Linked DNA regions of Homo sapiens: region 1 is linked to region 2. Evidence: fine-mapped expression QTL. A gene starts in region 2. The other region holds a variant in brackets. All regions are shown on one strand. Distances are from middle to middle. Region 1 overlaps COTL1 (coactosin like F-actin binding protein 1). Region 2 holds the start of COTL1 (coactosin like F-actin binding protein 1).

Evidence for each region.
Region 1: its variant is fine-mapped to the expression of COTL1 in thyroid (GTEx, PIP above 0.99). The same link has a PIP of 0.9 or more in tibial artery.

The regions. Positions count from the first base shown.
Region 1 is chr16:84,571,539-84,574,545 of GRCh38, forward strand. The region is part of intron 3 of COTL1 (coactosin like F-actin binding protein 1); the gene reads right to left. Among named protein-coding and RNA genes, the nearest start is that of COTL1, 45 kb to the right of the region's middle. RefSeq lists an enhancer at 785-1,317. The variant C/T (reference allele first, on the strand shown) is at 1,806.
Region 2 is chr16:84,616,590-84,619,089 of GRCh38, forward strand. COTL1 (coactosin like F-actin binding protein 1) reads right to left here and starts at 1,489. Exons shown (of 4, transcript NM_021149.5): 1 at 1,249-1,489; 2 at 912-994. The coding sequence starts at 1,325. RefSeq lists silencers at 1,318-1,367, 1,388-1,747.

The DNA.
Region 1 (3,007 bases), 45 kb before region 2:
CTCTTTGTGTCTCCTCCTCGTGCTGCTCCTGTGTCTTGTCCACCCCTTCCCCGTTCTTTGAGCCTGGCAGTGACTCCTAGCACCTTCCAAATAAAGTGTCTACATCTCCATCCAATCATCCCCCTGGGATCGGCTCCCCGCTGTCACCTCACCGGCAGACTGGTCATGCACGGGCCCATTGCCTGGACGTCACGTGGACACATGGGTGAGACGGTGAGACGGGCCTGTGACCAACAGTGGTCAGTTCCCTTGCAGCCAGAGCTGGACCCCAGCCTGCTCCTGAGTGGACACCGAGCCGCTCCCACCTTCTATAGGGCCAGCAGCAACTCTGCAGGGGCCCAGGTGGTCAGGCCGCATGGAGGGGGTACTAGCAGGCCTCCATCCTACACGGGGTGCTCCCAAGCCCCCAGAGGCTTACAAAGGTGAGCCAGCACCTTCCATTCAGGGCGTGGACTCCACAGAATGTCCCCAAAATGTCTAACCTGAGCCTCAGCCTAAAAACCAACTGACAACAACCTCCACACCTCTCCACCTCCACGCCTTCCAGCGGCTCCCATGAGATAAGGGAGTTGCAAGCACCACTGGGGAGTGGGCTTCATTGCATGTTTTCAAAACGAGGCAGAAGCTGAGCAAAACAGCTCTGGGCAGACAGACTCTGACTTGGGAGCAATGCCTGAAACTGGAGGGAGCCTGCGTGGAGCAGCTGAAGTCTGCCTTGCACCTGAGGCTGGAAACCAGAGGGAACATATGCATGCAAAGCGTGGCCACCCCTACACCACACACACCTCAAGACACAGCACTTGCCAGCACCCACATGCCACCAACACCCACGGGGGCAGGGGCAGGTGGCAAGACTCAGGAGGCAAGTCCTTCATCAGAAGGAGACTTCCAGGGCCTAGAGCAATGCGGACACACACAGAATGTTAATTTCTCTTTTTTTGAAACACAGTCTCACTCTGTCACCCAAGCTGGCGTGCAGTGGTGCGATCTCGGCTCACTGCAGGCTCAACCTCCTAGGTTCAAGCGATCCTCCCACCTCCGCCTTCCTAATAGCTAGAAATACAGGCACAAGCCACCACGTCCAGCTGATTTTTGTATTTTTCTGTAGAGACGTGGTTTCGTCATGTTGCCCAGGCTGGTCTCCAACTCCTGGGCTCAAGCGATCCACCCATCTTGGCCTCCCAAAGGCCAGAATTTTGAATTTTCTTTCTTTCCTTTTTTTTCTTAGACAGGTCTCACTCTGTCACCCACGCTGCCAGGCTGGAGGGCACTGGTGCAATCTCAGCTCACTGCAACCTCCACCGCCTGTGCTCAAGCAATCCTACCACCTCAGCCACCGAAGTAGCCGGGACTACAGGTACACACCACCATGCCCGACTAATTTTTTTTTTTTTGGTAGATAATGGGGTTTTACCATGTTGCCCAGGCTGGTCTCAAACTCCTGAGATGAAGTGATCCACTGACCTCGGCCTCCCAAAGTGCTAGAATTACAGGCGTGAGCCACTTTGCCTGGCCGGGAATTTTCAATTTGCTACTAGCCACATTGAAAAATGTAAGAAAGAAACCAGTGCCATTTATTTTAATAGTATTTTATCTAATCCAATATATGCAAAATATTGTCATTTCCACAATGTAATCAATGCTAAAAGGTACTGACGAGGTCCTTTACATTCATTTCTTTTGAACCCAGCCTTAGAAACGCTGTGTGCCCTCCGGGTATACGGCACACACTGATATGGCTGGGTGCGCTTTCAGGCGCTCAGTGGCCACACGTGGCCAGCAACAGCGCAGGTCTAGACAGAACA[C/T]GAAAGCGTCTGAAAGAATAATGTGATCAGGCAAACAGAATCATGAATCGCAGAGCATTAGAGCCCATCCGACAGGGGTGGACATCTGCGCCATGTCCAGATCTGGGTGGTGGCTTCAAAGGTATGCATCATGAACATTCAAAATACACAAAACTTGGGCCAGATGCAGTGGCTCATGCCCAGCACTTTGGGAGGCCGAGGTGAGTGGATCACCTGAGGTCAGCAGTTCAAGGCCAGCCTGGCCAACATGGTGAAACCCCATCTCTACTAAAAATACAAAGAATTAGCTGGGTGTGAGAGGCGGGAGAATCGCTTGAACCGGGGAGGCGGAAGTTGCAGTGAGCTTAGATCGCACCATTGCACTCCAGCCTGGGTGACAAGAGCGAAACTCTGTCTCAAAAAAAAAAAAATATATATATATACATACACACACACACACACACACACACACTCAACGAGTAGTATTCCGAAGATCTCTGCGTTTTACTCTATGTAAATTGTGTTTCAGCTGAACAAAATAGTGAAGGGAGGTGGGGCGCTGTGGCTCACGCCGGTAATCCCAAGCACTTTGGGAGGTCGAGAAGGGAGAATCGCTTGAACCCCGGAGTTCCAAGACTAGCCTGGGGAACAGTGGGACCCTTTCTCTACAAATAATAATAATAATAATAGTAATAAATAGCCAACAGTGGTGGTGTGCGCCTGTTGTCCCAGCTACTTGGGAGGCTGAGGCAGGAAGATCACTTGAGCCTGGGAGGTCGAGGCTGCCGTGAGCCATGATCGCACCACTGCACTCCACCCTTGAGACCTGCCATTCACCTCTTCATTATGTAGAGGACCAGCAACAACCCAGAGAGGGGACGCAGTTCATCCCAGGGGACACAGCAACTTCCCGGCAGGGCCCTGGGGATGCGTTCCTGGTGCCAGCCCCACTTTCTCCCCACATCCCGCCTCCAGGGGCTGCTCTAGACTGCCAAGCCCTCGAGGCAGCTGCCACAACCTGCCAGAGACTGCACAGCAACATGTGTCAGTCTGGGGGCACCGTCACCTGTGGCTGAAGAAAGCTCTTTGTTTTGTCTGGGAACTCGGTGTCGCTCTCTCATAGCTGCCAGACGGGGGACTTCTCTTTTCTTGCCAAAGCAGGATTTTCTTCCAAGGGCCTCATCCGACGAAGTCTCACTCCAAGCGGCTGAAGCTGCTTGAAT
Region 2 (2,500 bases):
GTTGTCCGAAAGCTTGCTTCCAACTAAAGACCAGAGATGGGAGGGAGTCGCATTCTCCAATCTCTTTAAAAGGTCCCATTACCAACATCACAGAGCCTCTGCCACTACCGAAGGGTTTATGGCGATGCCTGCCACGTGGTCTTTCTTTTCATGGTTCACAAGCCACAGGGAAGTGCCTAAGGCACACAAATCTTAAGTATACAGTCTGATGATTTTTCACGCGGGTACACACCTGCATAACCCCCTCCCAGATCAACAAATGTCTACAGAGACATTTTCAGCTCCCAGCAGTCCGGGTGGTGTGCCCCTCCCCATCAGTGGCTATCTAGCCCCAAAAGCTAATCTCGATTCTGACATTCACACCATAGATTAGTTTCGCCTTGTCTAGGATTTCTAAATGGAATCATATGGTGTGTACTCTTTTGCATCTGATTCTACTCGTCAAATTAAAAATCACATAAAATCAGCACACGGGCAGACAATGATAGCGGGAGAAAGGAGGGCGCGGCTGAGTTTCTTTCCCTTCCAAGCAGCCCCCTAGCCTGTTCGTATTTGGGCTCAGTGACTGATCAAAGGGGACAGTGGGAAGAGCTGGATGGACACTGGAGTTTGGAAACACAGGAGTTGACCTTAGAAAACCAGTGGACCGCAGGGGGCAAAAGAGCTGCCCCGCCTGGAGAAGGCATTGTAGGATGGCGGAGGCAGGTGGGTCACTTCTGTTGCTTCGGATGTCCAGAGGGGAGAAGGTTTTATGAGGCCTTAAAACGCTCACACCGGGTTCCTCCCACGCCATGCGCCAGGGGCACCCCATGTGGCCACCGGTTCCTCCCGGGTTCGCTCTGGCCGGGGCTCCCCGGGTGCAGACAACCTCCCAACGACCGCGCATCCGCCCGGCAGGCGCGCCTCCCTACCTGTGCACTGCTGGATGAAGTGCTGGTACTCCGCTCCCTGCTCGCCGGGGACGATGGTGGAGCCGTCATATTTAAAAGTCACCCTTTGGGTTGGGAGAAGAAAAAAACACACACACACATCAGCGCTGGTGGCCGCGCGACGCGGCGCTTGCAGAGGACAATCTAACAGACGCGCTGGCCACGGAGAAGCCCGCGGGGGCCTGGCACGCCGTCCCGGAATAAGGCGAGGAAGACAGCGCGGGAGGCCCGAATCCGTCCCGCCTGGAGGCCGGCTCGGTGCACGAGGCCCCGCGCGAGCCCGGGGAGCGGGGCGTGGAGACGAATGAAAAGTTCCTACCAGATGACGGCCGAGCCGTCGTCGCGCACCAGGTTGTACGCCGCCCGGCAAGCCTCTTTGTCGATCTTGGTGGCCATCGCCGCGGAGCCGCAGCGGGACACTGTCCGGGGCGGCCGAGCGCGCCCCTGGCCGGCGGCGGGGATGGGAGCGCGGCGGGTACGCGCCGAGGGCGCACGGGCTGGCGGCGGTGGCGACGGCTACGCGGCGCCTGCAAGCTGCGAGCGCGGCGGCGGCTTCCACTGCGGACGGAGAGCGCGCGGGGACCCCAGGCCGTGGCCCGCCCCGCCCCCCCGCGCCCATTGGCCGCCCAGGCGGCGGCCCGCCTCTTCATTGGCCGTCGGGCTGCGGGGGCGGAGCGTCTTGATTCTCTGGCGGCCAATCCCAGACCGGAAGGCTTGCGCAACTCCGCGGTGGGGGCTGGAGTAGGGGCTTTGCCTCCTCCCTCTCACTCTCCCTCCTCCCTCCCGCTCTCTTCTCCCCCAACATCCCTCTTCTCTCTCCTTCTCCTTCTCACTTCCCCTCCTCCCCTCCCGACCCCTCCCTGGAAACTCCCACTACCCCAACCCCCTTTCCCACCCCGCCTTCCTCCTCTCCCTCCTCCTTCCTCTTCTTCCCCCACTGCTTGCTTCCCCCACTTCCCTGACCTCTTCCCCCTCCCTTCCCTCCCCCTCTTTCTCCCTTCCCCCTTTATTCTTCTTCCTCTCTCCTCCTCCCTCTTCTTGCCTATCCCAGCCCAAAACTTCTCCATCCTCCCTATTTCCTTCTCCCCAAGCTCTCCTCTTTCCTCCTCCTTGACCCCCTCCCCTGCTGCCCCCGGCTTCGCCTCCCTCTTCTCCACTTACCCTCCTGGCATCTCCTCCCTCCCTGTCCCCTACTCCCTCCTCCTATTCCCCCTCTCCCCCTTCCTCATTCTCCCCACCCCCCTGCCCCTGAGGCTGCAGGGCTGCAGAGCTCCACAGGGGACCTCCACGTGGATGATGTAATGCGTCAAACCCAAGGAGACAGGCTGGCCACTGTCCCTACCCCAGCGTTTGGTTCCATGGATTCTAGGTGGGGAGGAACTGGAAAGAATGAAGCATTTTAAATAGGAGGGGGTAGAAAGTGGACTGCTTCCAAAACGCTGGTGGGCTCGCGTTTACTCTGGATTCTGGTCATTTGCATTCCTATCTTAACCTCTCCCTTTGGGCTCCTCTGAAAGCACGAGCTGACTCATTCTGTCTTCCTCATTCCTTCACTGACTCATTCATTCATT